2 separate regions of the Homo sapiens genome follow, and region 2 is linked to region 1. Evidence: fine-mapped expression QTL. Tissue or cell type: subcutaneous fat. Region 1 holds a variant in brackets; the other region holds the start of a gene. All regions are shown on one strand. Distances are from middle to middle.

Region 1 (7,616 bases):
GAAGGAAGGAGGGAGGGAGAGGAGTAGGGAGGGAAAGAAGGAGGGAGGAAAGAAGGGAGGGAGGGAGAGGAGAAGGAGGAAAGGATGGATGGAAGGAAGAAAGGAAGGAAAGAGGGAGGGAGGGAGGAGAGAAGGAAGGAAGGAGCGAGAAAGGAGGGAAAGAGGGAGGGAAGAGAGAGGGAAGGAAAGGAGGGAGGAAGGAAGGGAGGGAAGAAAGATGGATGGAGGGAGGGAGGGAAGAATAGAAGGAAAGAAGGAGAGAGGGAAGGAGGGAGGAAGGAAGGAGGGAAGGAGGGAGGAAAGAAGGAGGGAGGAAGGAAGGGAGGGAGGGAAGAGGAAACACTGGACTCTAAGCATGTACAGTAAGCATTGTGAGCCTCAGTTTCCTCGTCTGTAGAGAGGGAAGCAGTTTCAAAGGCTGCTTGGAAGACTGATTGACGAGGCACAGTGCACCCGCAGGTAAAGGGGGACTACCTCACTGTTCTCCCGCCCCCGAAGACCTCCATGCTGGGCCAGGAGGACAGAGCGGGAGGTCTGCCCACTGCCCAGGAGCACCCCAGTGGGTGGAGTGAAGACTGGGCTGGCACACTGAGACAGTGGAGTCCACCGGGAGCTCAGGGGACTCAGGGACTCTTCAGCCCCTATCTGGGAACCCACTAGGGTTGGGACCCCTGTGCCAGACCTGGCCCAGCTCGGGGAGGGCTCTGCACTACCCGCTGCCTGTGGTCTGGCCCAGCCCCTGCCAGCACCGGCCCATGGTGATGTCACTCAGCATGCCCAGTGCCTGCAGCACTTCTCTGGTCTCTGGCCCCAGACCCACTGGCCGGCCGGACGCTCGATATATTCTGTTTTGAAAGAAAACAAACTCTTTTGAAACACTGCTGCTGGGAGCACAGGCTGAAAGTCTCGCCCCCACACTCCTTTCCCCTCCCATGGGAGCTGGTGCACATCTGAGCATCGGGGAAACCTGACAGGTGGGGCCACATGTGGGGCAGATGCCCCTTCCCCACCCTCCAAGGCAGCAGACGGGTACAGAGCCCCTGCTGTGTGGCTGCCTGGGATGCAGAGACAGCATTGAGACTGAAGGCAATAGGGAGCTATTGAAGGATTGAGAGGGAGAGTGACTGGGTCAGATAAGTGTCTCAGGAAGTTGGGGCAGTGCGACCCCCATTGGAAACATGTTGCAGTTGGTGTGAGTTGAACTAGGGGCACGATGGGGTGACAAATGTGAATGACATTTAACACAAGAAGCCACGGAGTTAGTGGCCACTCAGGCCCAAAGGGGCCCCAGATCATGCCAAGGCCTCCCAAGGCCGCCTCAACCTCAGGTCTTCATGGCAGGAACTGGGGGCCCCGTTTGGGAGGCTCTGGAGCTCCAGCAGAGCAGAGGGTCTGGGGAAGGCTTGCCAAGGCAGGGCCTTTGCCACATCCATGGTGGGGTGGGATGGGGGGTGGTCCTGAAGGGTCTGGGTGGTCAGGAAGCCCAGCCTGCATGGTCTCCCTCCAAGTGTTGTCAGCGCCTCGGGGGACCTTGGAACCGGGGCTGGGAATGCTCCACCTGCCAGCCTAGAGCAGCATGATCATGCCAGCCTGGCCCCCAAGCCAGTCCAGGGCAGTGGGACAGGGTGACCACAATAGCCTCAGAGGGGCAGAGTAACAATGGTGACCTCCTTCTGAGCTGTCCCTTGCACCAGGGACTCGGCATGGGACTGCTTTCATCCTCCAGAAGCAAGCCCAGGAGGTAGAGGCTGTCGGGGTGCCCACGCTGCAGGTGGGGAAATGGGTCCCACAGAGAAGGAGGACACTTGCTGGAGGTGACAGCCAGGGAGGGCCAGAGCCGGATCTAGCCCCCTGCAAACCTTCTGCTCACAGTTCGCACCAACTGTGAGCCCATAAAGGCATGAATATAAGGGGTGCATGCGTGTGCATGTGTGTGTGCATGCGCAGGTGTGTGTGTGTGTGTGCATGTGTGTGCATGTGCGAGTGTGTGGATGTGCAGGTGCTGGTGTGTGTCTGCATGTGTTTGCATGTGTGCACGTGCGAGTGTGTGCATGTGTGTGCCTGTGTGTGCATGTGCAGGTGCAGGTGTGTGCGTGTGTGTGAGTGTGCATGTGTCTATGTATTTTAATGAAGCCACAGTTGAGAGGCAGGATCTGGCTGGTGCCCTCACTCTTCCGTCACCAGTCCTCACTGTGGGGTCGAGGACAGGCCACACATGGGGCTTCCTTTCCTGTAACCCCATGCGTGAGCCAGCCCCTATTCCCTCAAGGACCCAGTTCTTTCCTTGAAGAAAATGGGGTTCTTATGCCTACTTCTCACAGTGTTCAGGGACTGAGCAGTGAGTTGTGAGGCTGACCACCCAGTGCCAGCCTGAGAGGCCCTGGGGGTGTTGGAAGGGCTCCGTGGTGGGGGGAATGGGTGGGTTGCTCTTCTGGGGCCCCCTCCCCCTTTGCAGGCAGGTCCAGGCTAGAGCACAGCTCCAGGCTCCCTGGCAAGATGCACCTGGACAGGTCTTTGTCCTCCAGCCTTGGGGAAGGACGGGTGACTTGTCTGCCTTCTTGGAGGAGGGTGCAGAGGGTGGGCTGTGGTGGGCATGGAATGAGGGGGTGTGTATGGGTGTGTGGGCTAACCCCTCCTGCCACAGGGCCTTAGCACATGCCATCCCCTCCAGCTAGCATCTTCCCCGTCCCCCGTCACACAGGTAACTCCCACCCCTGCCTCGGATCCCAGATCACGTGTCCCTTCCGGGGAAGCTGCCTCTGACTTCCCTGGCTAAGGCCACCCCCATGTCCCCCAGGGGCCTCTTCTATAGGAGCAGCAATGCCACACAGGGCTGTCTTCTAACATCTGACTGAGGGTGAGGCCCATGCCTTCCTGCCCACCACTTCATCCCTGTGCCCAGCACAGTGGCAGATGTAGGGTGGGCACTCAGAAATGTTTGTAGAATGAATGAAGAGAGGAATGAATTTGGCCAACTCCATGGCCTATGCCCCTGGCTAAGGCAGCCCAGAACTTAAGGTACTTTCCAAAGCAGCTCTGGGGAAGAGCCTCAAATGGTGGGAGAGAAGAAGGTAGGAGCCTAGGCCTGGGTAGCCTCTGAGGCTGGAGGTCTCCAGGGTGGCAGGGTGGCATCATGATCGAGGTCATGGATTGCCTGCATGCTCCCATGGAGCTGCCTGCATGCTCTCATCATCTGGCTGAGGCACCACAGACAAGGGACTCAACTGCCCTGTGCCTCAGTTTCTCCCTCTGTAAAATGGGGATACTAACGCACCCTACAGGACTGCTGTGAAGACTCAAGAGAGTTCATGTAAAGTCCTCAGAACAGTGGCTGGCTCACTGTAAGAGCTGGGTGTTTGTCAGATTTCTTTATTTTTTCCTTATTTGCTTTGAAATCAAGTTTTTTTAAACAATATAAATGACAGATAAATGTTCAAGACATACATGCAAAAGAAACAAAAAAATCTAAAAGAACATTTAAATCCCTACAAATCTCACCTGCCAAAGAAACTACTTATATTAGTCAGGGTTAGGTTCTAGTGTGAATAATAGACACCTCCCCAAATAGCAGTGGACTAAACAACACAGAAATTGCTTTCTCTCTCAAGTGAGAGTCTAGAAATGGGATAGGAGGTGGTTGGTCCTGCTCTGCAAAGCCTTTGGAGACAGTCACCTCCTGACTATTCTCTGAGCCGTTAACCTGGAGGTATGGTTCTTGCCTTTGGGTCCAAAACAGCAGCCAGAGCTCCAGCCATCACGTCCAAGTCCCAGGCAGCAAGAAAAAAGAAGGGATGAACAAAGTGCATGTCACTTGCCTTTTAAGGAAGACTTTTGGAAGCTACAATATGTCCTTTTCTTTATCTTCTTTTCCCATGTGTAACATGGCCACACCTAGCTGCAAGAGAGTCCAGATAGATGGTCTTTACTACAGGTGGGCCATGTGTCTTTTTCACTGTAAAGGGGATCACAGGTAGCTTCCCACGCCCACAAATAAAGATTCACAGATTTTTAAAGGCTGCTTGCAATTCCATCAGGCAGAGGTTTGATGATTTCACCAGTATCAACAGACATGCAGACCATTGCCAGTTTTCTGGTATTACAGCCCCTGACACCCCTGGATGTATCATCTTTGCACCGGGTTGGAACATTCCTTCCCGTAAGTTCCCAGAAGTAGAAATGCTGAGTCAAAGAGGATACACTTTTGACATTTGGACATGAATTGAGAAATTGCCCTTCAGAAAGGTTGGCCCAGTTTGCAATCCTCCTC[A/T]CCATGCTGTGGGGGCTCAGGATGGAGCTGAGAATGTCCCCAGACCTGAGGCTCAGCTGCCCCTGCTGGGTCCCTCTTGGCATTGTGGGTTTGCTCCCATATTTACTCCAAATTTAGGACTTTTTCCTCCCTTCCCCATGGTAGAGGTCGGGGAAGTGTGCCCCCAATCCTCCCAGTGGGATCCTTGGGGAAGCCCCTGCCTTGGACAACACCAATCATGAGGTCCCAACCCCTCTAGATGACAGCAAGGAGCAGGAGCCTCCCATAGTGCCTGGGGCTGTTGTTTGAGCTAAGCAGGGGCAGGTGCCTGGGGCTGTTGTTTGAGCTAAACAGGGGCAGTGGCTGCCACCCTGAATGAGGGGCTGGGGCAGGCATCCTGTGGGTGATCACCCTGGCCCCTCAATCAGATGGACAAGGAGTACAGCCACCAAGCCTTGAGATGCTGTGCTGCAAATGCCCGGAAATGTGCATCAGCCTGGCTGGGGCAGGCCTGACGGCTCCTAACCGCAGCTGGCAGCAGGGTGCCAGATTTCACTCCAAATAAAAATACAGGATGCCCAGTTAAATCTGAATTTCTGATAAACAACAAAAGTTTTAGTATAACCTAAATACTGTATGGACAAAGGATCGAAGAAAGTGCATGCTACTCGCCTGTTTAAGGAAGCTTCCTAGAAGATGTAACATGTCCTTTCTCCTTTATCTCCCATGGGTGACACAGCCCCACCCAGCCGCATCCTTTACTTTATTTGGCAGCCCTCACTGGCAGCACTGGGGCCCCTGGAAGCAGCAAGCCCAGTGGAAAAAACCTGGACTTTGACACCAGACAGCCTGGATTCAAATCTTGGCCTTTGCCTCTGGTAGCTGTGGACTTCTGGCCTAGTCACTTAACCCCTCTGTCCCTCAGTTTCCTCGTCTATACATATGGGGGCAAGAATAGCACCTACTTAATGAGGGCATAATGAATATTACAGGAAAGACGTCTGCCTTCAGCGACATGGAAGTACAGATTAGCTCTATGCCTTTCCTCTATGCAACGTTCAGAAATGTTGTATACATTTTAACTAACATCCTTTTCAGTGCATAGCTAAGGGGCACGAGAAAACAAGGGAAATCTCTGCGGTGTGGAAATAAAGACAGAATTAAAGCGAAGGGTGGGAAGTTTGTGGGGTGAGGCCGCAGAAGACCTGGGAGGGATCGCTGGTTGTGGTTCCCCGGAGGCTGCAGCCGTGCTCAACAGCCAGGAAGGGGCCAGGGATGAGGCTCCTGTCCCATGTGGGGCAGAGTCAGAGCTGAGCACCCCATGGGGAGCCAGTGTTCACAAAGTGCCTCCCTCTCAGGACACGGGTAAAGGAGGTAAGTCTGCCCACTGGCTCAGGGAAATGAAATGAAGTTGACAGGGGAAGAAAAACCTCTCTACTAGGAACCCATCATCATTGGTCTGTCTTCAGACTGCATTCAGATTGAAATGCCTCTATTTACCTTATGGCCTGGTAACTCTCAAGTCAAGAAATTACCATAGAGAGTGAGCCTGAACCAGTGACCCATGGGGCATCTAGAAGAATCAAACCCAAAACCTCACCAGAGAGACTTCAGGACCATCTGGGATTTCTATAAATAAAGTCCATCGGAAGATGAGCTCACAATAATAAATTACAAACACAAAGGAACTGATCACCAGGAGTAGAATCAGCATGCATGGGTTTAAAACCTCAAAGGCACTGATGTTTGCAGGTGAAGACGATAGAATAATACATTTTTAATGTTCAAGGAACTACAAGGAGGAGTTGAAAACACGGAAATGGCAAGTCATCATGAAGATGAAATAGATATGTTTCAAAATGAACCAAATAGAATTTCTAAAAATTAAAAGTTAAATTAAAGCTCCATGTCTTGAGACTTCTTTGTTTGGGCCATGGTCATGAAAAGGGTTGGGTTAATTCACCCATTGAAACAACTAGAAAATGAGATAAAATGGACGAAATAACGATTTTTTTAAACACAATGCCAACAGGTAGAGCAGGACTGGGGCCCCCGGGAGAGGGAAACACACAAAGTGGGTATGACAACCACTCTGGCTTCCACCTAGTGGCAAGTTTCTGGAGAAAGAAAGAAGGAGGGGCACAGGAGCAAAGCATGGTGGCCCCAGTGTTGAGGACTCATAAATTCATCTGATAGAAAAGTAAAGCAGATGACATGCCAAGGAGCCCAATTAGGCTGACAGTAAAAATAGAAACCAGAAAACAACAGAAATGATACAAAGGTTGAGAAAAAATGATGATCAAATGGTGCTTATATAGCTGATACACTATCCTTCAAGAGCAAGGGTGACATAAAGACATGTTTGGACCCAAAATATTAATAGAATTTACCACTTACTTTGACAGATGAGTGGGTTTTTAAAAATGTGGTGTATATATACGACATTTATTATATATAATGTATTATATATGTACAATATATGATATAATATATACTATATTATAATGATATGTACTATATTATATATAATATATAATAAATACATAATATATTCTAAATGCAATATACAATATAAATATATAATATATAATCTATTATATATGTATTAATATAAATTTATATGTACAATATACAATGTACAATATAATATATAATAAATTATATAATTATATAATTATATACTATCTATACTATATATTATAATATATAGTGTGTATATACTATATACATTATATATATACTATATACATTATATATACTATATATAATATAATATATAGTGTGTATATACTATATATTATAATATATAGTATAGACAATATATTATTATATAGTATATTTATATAAAATACACCATATATTTTACATGTAATATATTATGTAAATATACTATATATACCATAATATGTAGTCTTTTTTGTAAATATACTATATATACCATAATATATAGTATGTTATGTACATGAGGTAGCTAAAGTAGTCAAACTCGCAGAAGCAAAGACTAGAATGGTGAGTGCTAGGGGTGGCTGGTAAGATGGGTGCTAATCACCCAGTATCAATTTTAGTTACGCAAGATGAAGAAGTTCTAGAGATCTCTATACAGCATTATGTCTAAAGATAAGACTGAGTTGGGCATTTAAAAATCTGTCAAGGGGATAGAACTCATGGTAAATGTTTTTTACCACAATAAAATAAGATAAAATAGGATTTACCACTTACGAGATCTACACTGAAAGAAATGCATATATAAAGAAATTGGAAAGAATTTGATGAACATGTGAGTAAATCCTAACAAACATTGACAGTATAAAATACTATTATTATAATAAAATCATACTTTGAAAAATGTGAAAATAATACTGAATAAAAT
Region 2 (7,616 bases), 65 kb before region 1:
TCAGAGCAGGAGAGTTGGGCATGGAGTTGTGGCAGGTGGAACATCATATGCCCACGCCATTGGAGCTGTGGTCCCTCCTTGGCAGTGCTCTGAGGGAAACTGGCATCCCTGTGCCCCTCCCTTTAGAGTCTTTGGCTTCCTCATTGTGTCTTACTGCGAAAGAGCAGTCAGACTGATATGGATGATGGGAGGAGCTGCCCTTTGGCTCAGAGGAGGAGTGTCAGAGAAGGGGTCACAAAGACAGCTCTGTAGGCTGAGCCAAAAGCAGTATAGGGTAATGTTAGGAGCAGGTCTTGGTGCAACTGCCTGGGTGCCCCTAGGTTCCACTGCTAACTTGCTATGTGACTGAGCCACTGTACACTTTAGTTTCCTCCTCTGTAAAATGGGGATAACAGTAGTCCTAGCCATAAAGTTGTCATGAGGATTAAATGAAATAGTGTGGGAAAACTACTGACATGTGGTGCATGTTCAGTACAAGTTATCCTCACCATTATCATCATCACCACCATCATCATCATCATCACCAGCATCATCATCATTACCGTCATCACCATTACCATCATCACCATCATCATCATTACCATCATCACCATCATCACCATCACCATCACCATCATTATCACCACCATCATCACCATCACCATCATCATCACCACCATCATCACCATCATCACCAACATTATCATCAGACCACCATCATCACCATCATTACCACCACCATCATCATCATTATCATCTTCACCATCATGATCACCATCATCATAACCACCATCATCACCATCATCACCACCACCATCATCACCATTATCATCCTCACCATGTTCACCATCATCATCATCACTATCACCACCACCACCATCATCACCATTATCATCCTCACCATCATCACCACCATCATCACCACTTTCATCACCATCACCGTCATCACCATCATTATCACCACCATCATCACCATCACCGTCATCACCATCATCACCACCATCATCATCACCATTATCATCCTTACCATCATCACCATCACCATCACCACCATCATCACCATTATCATCACCATCATCAACGCCATCATTATCACCATCATCACTATCATCACCATCACCATCACCATCACCAACTCATCATGATTTAACAGGTGGGCTGGCAATCTGAATGTTGAAGACAGAGGGAGAAAATCAACCTGGGGCAGTCAGATTTCTACAGTCCTCCCCAGCAGGACCCAGGTGGGCTACTGGGAGTCCCAGAAGCAGATATCAGCCCAAAAGATGAGCTTTGATAATTAGAGTGAGGCTATGGTGAGACTGAGTGACACTGCGGGGTGCCAAAATAATCTAGGGTTGTTGGAATGCTGACAGCAGACAAAAGTAAGATAAGGTATCTCCTGACACCACCTCCTTCCATCTGCTCTCAGACGGGGCTCTTTGGAGAGGATCTGCCAGGAAGAACTGAGGTCTTATGCCACCTCCACCTCTACGTAACCTCAAACAGGCGTCATCTTGTCTCCTGGCCTCAGTTTCCTCATCTGTAAAACGGGGACACATCAGGATCTGCCCTCAGCAAGTTGCTGAGTGCCTGCCCTGAGCAGCCGGTAGGTGGCGCTGATGGGCTGGTGGTTGGGTTGGGGGAGGCTCGCATAGGGTCTCTGGAGGTCCCAGTAGGGCACTGGGGAGACCTCCCCTGATTCCCTGGAGGCAGAGCAGAGCTCTTGTCTTTGCAGGAGCTGCAGATTCTGCCTTGGGTATCTTAGAAGCTTTGTACAGGCATCTCCAGCTCAGTGGGAACCAAATGCCATCCTATCTCCCCACCTCACTGGTGTCACCATCTTCCTGGGAGCTGTCTGGATAACCCTCTCCCTGGCCCTCACCTTTAATTTGTCCCTGAGTCCCATCAGGGTCACCCTCCATCCCACTGCCATCTTCCTGGGAGCTGTCTGGATAACCCTCTCCCTGGCCCTCACCTTTAATTTGTCCCTGAGTCCTATCAATCAGGGTCACCCTCCATCCCACCACCATCTCCCACCTGAGTGAGAATGGGAACCTCCTCTCCCACTCCCTCCAATTCCCCTCCACTACAGCTGGGGGAGGCTTCTAAAATGCCAAATATAGCCCAGTTTCTGCAACTTGCAGGGTCCCCAGCCCTCGGGAGAAAGTCCAAACCCCTGACAAAGCCTGTGAAGCCCCCTGAGGCCCTGTGGGTCTGGGGCTAGCTCTGGGCTGCAGCCCTGTCTCTGGTCATAGTCCAGCATCCACCACGGTCCAGGTGCACTGAGCTGCCGGCCCTCTCTCCCCTCCGCTGGCTCCTTCCTCCTGACTGCCCGTCTTTCCCTGGCCTCTCTATGCTTCCCGCTGGCATTGACGACAGTGTCCTGGAGAGCTGGGCAGGGAGGGCTGCCTTGGGTTCCTACTGTGTGCTCCACCTAGTGCTGGTCTTGGCCCTTAGCAAGTGCTCAGTACACCCGTGTGGAATTGGGCGGTGAGGGTAAAGGGAGGAGGAGGGAAGGGCCAAGAGCTCCCTGTGCTCAATGAAGAGAGGGACTTGAGCAAGTACTCATTTTTAGTACTTCCCAAGATGTGTACAAGAGGCCTGGGGCCAGCAGAACTCCTTGCCCCTGCCCATCCCCCTCCAGTCTATGGGGTCCACCCCCAGCTGCCCAGCTGTGAGGCCTCCATGGCTCAGCTCCTCATCTATTAAGTGAGGACAGCAGTCGTCCCCCTCACAGCGAGGCCACGTGGGTTACATAACTTTTTCTTAGGGTGCCTGGCCTGCAAGAAACCCCTAAGAATGTTCTATATTCCTAGGCCCACTGTTATTCTTAATATTACCCAGGAAAGGGTGGTGAAGCGAGTAAATAAATGAATAGGTGAATGAATAAATGAATGAATGAATGGCACCCTAGCCCCACTGTCTTCTGGGTGGCTTCAGGATCCTTGAGGAGGTTGGCCGTGTAGGTTCCCCTCAGGTAGGACCTAGGTGAGCTGGGGAGTCTTAACTCACCCAGGGCAGGCCTTAAGGTTGGGCACACCCATGTGTGGGCTCTGCCCTGGCCTTAACCGAGAGAGGGAAATGTTGACGGGGAAGAAAGCCCTGCCCACCAGGCAGCCCCACCCACCTGGGCTAGCCCCACTCACAAGCAGCCCCACCCACCTGGGTTAGTCCCACCCACCAGGCAGCTCCGCCTACCTTGGCTATCCCCCTCTGAGTTCTTGCCTTGATTCTCCTGTTACTGTCCCGCGAACCCACATCCCTACAAAGCAGGAAAGTATGCTTGGGAGAGGCCAAGTGAGTGGGGAATCAGCCCAAAGCCAGGCGTCCAGGGTCTCCCTCACCTGAAGCTGACTTTTTCCCCACCTTGGACAGAGGGCGGGAGATGCCATCCCCACTGAACCCAGTGCTTTCACCAGCCATATTAGCTCCCACTCACCCCCCGTCGTGGAAGCCTCGGCCGTCACACCTGCAGGGCCGGGGCGTGCATGGCCTCAGGGATGGCCTGTTCAGCTGCTGGGTGACTCGGGTCCAGGTGCCTCACCACCTGCTGAGCTCTGTGTGATTTCTGGACACTTCTGCTCGTTGCCTTTGGGCTCAGTGAAGAGTCTGGAGTTTATCTGGAGTGAGGTGGCCGGTTCTTGGTGGGATCTGAGCAGGTAAGAAGCAGGGTCTTTCTTATGTTTTAAGGAAAGCCCTGTGGCTGCTGGGTGGGGGACCAGCTGGAGGGGCAGGAGGGCAGCAGGTGACTCATTACAAGGCTGGGGCCATCATCCTGTGAGAGCTGGGCATGACCAGTGCAGGTCAGTGGGGTTGAGGGTACAGACCAGTGGGACCCACAGACGGCTCGGGAGTGACCAAGCCTCTGCTGAGCTGCCCAGGTCCCCTCTGGTGGACACCTCCTACCCGGAGCCCCCCAAGGTGGTGCCAAAGCTAGACCACCATACAGCCAGAGGCCTCCAGGCCCTACCCACGACAGCCCAGCTGGCTTCTGCCCAGCCACCGTCACACACAGAGGGCAGCCGTCCCCATGGTCCCTAGAGGCGGTTGAGGACCACTGTGCCTGGAGTCATCTGTGGCTATAAACCAGGAGGAGAAGGCTGCCCACCCCCTGCCCCAGAGATGGGGAGGCTGGGGCCACCCGGTGGATTTGGGCAGGTCCCAGCTTCCAGGATCATGAGGTGAAAACGTGAAGGGACCCTAGAGGCCATGGGGACCCAGGCACAGAGCGGCGGCCTCTCATCCTCCCCATGGTCAAGGAGGTCAGTGCCTTCCCGGGGTGGATTACGGATGGTAGTATCTTCCTTCTCCTCAGAGTCCATTCAGGAGCAGGAAAGTTCATCTCAGACCCTAAATCCAGCCACGTCATGCCACGCTTAACACCTCTAACAACTTCCCCTGGCACTTAGGACAGCGTCTGGCTCCTTCCCTCGGCTCATGGCCCTCAGAATCTGCGTCACATACACCCCAGCTCTCCCGATAGGTCTCTGCACTCGCTGTTGCCTCTGCCTGGAACAGTCTCCCTCCTGGTGTCATTGTCTCCGTGGTGTGTCCTTCCTGACCTTCCACCTCCACCAGGTGCCGACACTTCCCTGACCCCAGTAACCTCTTCTCTTGGGTGGGTGAATGCCACCTGCTGATGTCTGATTTATTCATCGGTTTTCTTGTCTGTAGTCTGTCCCCCTTGGGGACAGGGACTCGTTGCTCATGTTCACCCGGCAGGCTGGACACTTCGTGGAGGGCTCCAAAGCCGGCAGATCCCGGGGCCGCCTCTGTCTCTCCCAGGCCCTGCGTGTTGCGGTGAGAGGAGCATTTGTGTCTCTGTGGTTTGCTGCTGGAGCTGGTGACCGGGAGAGAAACAAGGGAGACAAGGGTGCCCAGACAGGTGCGGGGCTCAGCCAGGAGGCAGAAGACGTGGACGTGTCCCGGGCCAGGAGGGTCACAGATGCACCACAAGGCACTCTGTGTGGCACTGGGAACAGGAATTCTGGGAGTCAGTCTGCAAGGGTGGTGGGCGTTGCTCACCTGGGAGAAGCCTTTAGAGTGGGCGTTGAGCAGGCCATTAGCTCGTGCCCTGAGGAGGTGCATGGGCGGCATGGGCTCTCCATGGAAATTATGTGGGCGCGAATGGATGTGGCTCTGCGCTCACCTGGGCGAGGACTTCTGGCCGGTGCCGGGGCACTCTGCATGACCCTGGCAGAATCGAGCTGCCCTGACTATGAAAGGGGAAGAAGAGCATGCCTGACCCTCCACCGGCACCCCACCCCTCACTGCTCCACCTGGGGCCTGCCTCTGCGGGTGGCTGGGTCCTGGCTGACTGTTGTGACTGTTGAGGCCCTGGGGGGGTGGCGCATGGGAGTTAGGAGGACTGGCCAGGTGGGGCCCACTATGCACCCACCCCCAGTGTCAGGTGCTTCTCCTCTCCTCCTCCACCACCTCCTCCTCCTCCTCCTCATCATCATCCTCACTTGTTGAGGACGTCCTGTGTGCCAAGTGGTTTATATGCCCAGCCTCATTTAATCCTCAGAATGACTCCATGAGGTAGCTACTAAAACCCCCCACTTAACAGATGAGGAAACTGAGGCCTAGAGAAGCTCAACAAGTTGCCTAAGTTCCAAGTTTCCTCTCCCAACTCTCCTACCCTCTCCTCTTCCTTCTCCTTTCTCCCATTCTTCCCTGCCTCTTCCCTAACTAGACAATTTTTTATTGAGTGTCTCCCAGGTGCAGGCATGAGCCAGGTGCTGGGAAAATCATGATAACCCAGCTCCTTCTGGTCATTTTCTCAGCTGGTTAGAGGCTGGGAGGACACGCAAGTTCAGCTCCAGCCGACTGGGGCATTGGTGGTAGCCCCTGGAGACATTGTGCAATGGGGCTACGAGGCTGCATCTGGCTCCAGGGAAGCGTGTTGCAATCCATGAGTGATGTCTGCCATGCGTACAGGCATGGAGAGTGAGGCGCCTGTACTGTCTTTCTGTAGACCCTAGACTGGTGGGGCCTCTGAAATGCATCCAGACACTGTGCTGGGTGTGTTGCATGGCCCTCCCAACCAATTCAGTATTTTTCTCCCCATTTTCCAGGGAGAAATCTAAGGCGTCAGAATGTAAGGTTCTTATTGGAACCCAGGCTCCAGGGTCCCTGGTTTTCTGTGACATCATGCTGCAGGACCCTGTTTCTCTCTTTGCTTTGGCTGCTGGGGAGCTCAGAAGGGAGCTTTAGGCTTGCTCTCAGTCACCACATTAGCTCAGGGGTTTGGGCATTTTTGTCGCCGTCTCCTTTGGGCTCTGTCTCCTCCCTGCTGTGCTTCCTGAGGAGCAGGCCGGATGTAAGTTATCAACTATAAATAAAACCAAGACTTCCGTTCTGGCTCTCACTCTAGTTTCCTGGTGCATTTTTTTTTTTTAAAGTTCTTAATCAAGGGAGGGGATACTCCTAACTGAAGATGACATCAGCATCAGCTGGCCCCGGGGGGCAGGCCCCCAGCCCCCAGGCCCGTGTGGGCCCTGAATGCCCCCATTATGAGGGGTAACCTCATTACACAAGACACGCTGCACGGCGGAATTTCAAATGGGGTTTTGTGGTTTCTGCCCTTTGCAGCCGAGCACACACAGGCAGCTGCGGCCGCCCGGCTTCCTCTCCCGCCGCAGCCCTGGCGCCTGGCCAGCTGGTGACCACCCCTTCTACCATGAGTCAGTTTCATTCTTAACTCTCTGACTCAGGTCCCTTTAAAGGGACAGCAGAATCCATTCATTCCAAGCAAGGGAGGAGAGGTGAAGAACCTGCCTGGGAGAGGAGTCAGGGGTCAAGAGGAAGCTTAGGGGTCCCAGGCAGGCGGCTGAGTGAGCAGCCCTGCCTCACTCCCCTACCCCAGACACCAAGGATGGAGGGGCTTTCCTGCCTGTTCCAAGGGAGACGGACCTGTGACTTCCCCAAAGCAGACCATCTGCAAGGCGGGAAACCCCGGTGTTCAGCAAGCTTCCTTTCTGTCTGGGCACAAGCCCTGCCCAAGCTCTGGGCTCAGAAGGTAATGGGGGCTTTGCAAGCCACCCCCAATGCCCCACGTGCACCACTTCCTTCTCATCCTTGGCCCCCTCATTCCTTGTACTTCCGTCGCAACAACCTCTGGAGTTCCTAGAACATCCTGAGCTGCTTCCCCCGGCTGCCTCCCTGCCACCTGGCATGCACGTCACTCCGCTCTTTGTGGTGGTCCCATCTCCTCCTTCCGAGCCCAGCTGCATGCCACCTCCTCCCACGTACATACTGCCAGTCCGTCATAGCAACCTATTTATCTCCATAGTAACACAAGGAACAACCCCAAACTCTATTCAACTTGCTCCCCATGTTAACGGCCCCCAGTGTGGACTGTCAGCTCCATGAAGGCAGGGCCCTACTTATCTCGTTCACAGCACAAGGCCGGGCACACAGTAGGTGCTCACTCAACATTCCTGGGATCAATGGGAAATGACTGTCGGGGAACCCTCTGCAGCCGTCCTTGTCGAGGGCCCCAGATGGGGTGTGGGTGGCCCCTCCCCATCCAGATGGTGTTGGAGGGGCTGGGGGCCAGGCATGGCGAGCAGGCCGAGGCTGCAGGTGGACATCCCTGGGACTGGAGCTGCTGGGGGCCAGGCTGCAGTTCCAGC

Evidence for each region. PIP is the estimated chance that this variant, and not a neighbour inherited with it, causes the effect.
Region 2: it holds the start of MYEOV, and the variant in region 1 is fine-mapped to the expression of MYEOV in subcutaneous fat (GTEx, PIP 0.96).

Annotation. Positions count from the first base shown.
Region 1 is chr11:69,356,185-69,363,800 of GRCh38, forward strand. The region is part of intron 2 of LOC105369370 (a long non-coding RNA gene); the gene reads left to right. Among named protein-coding and RNA genes, the nearest start is that of LINC02953, 66 kb to the right of the region's middle. RefSeq lists a silencer at 3,723-3,923. The variant A/T (reference allele first, on the strand shown) is at 4,268.
Region 2 is chr11:69,290,939-69,298,554 of GRCh38, forward strand. MYEOV (myeloma overexpressed) reads left to right here and starts at 3,217. Exons shown (of 3, transcript NM_001293291.2): 1 at 3,217-3,638; 2 at 4,295-4,557; 3 at 4,654-6,349. The coding sequence starts at 4,417. The coding sequence ends at 5,454. RefSeq lists enhancers at 1,788-2,339, 6,067-6,929, 6,189-7,388, 6,895-6,964, 6,930-7,616 and 1 more.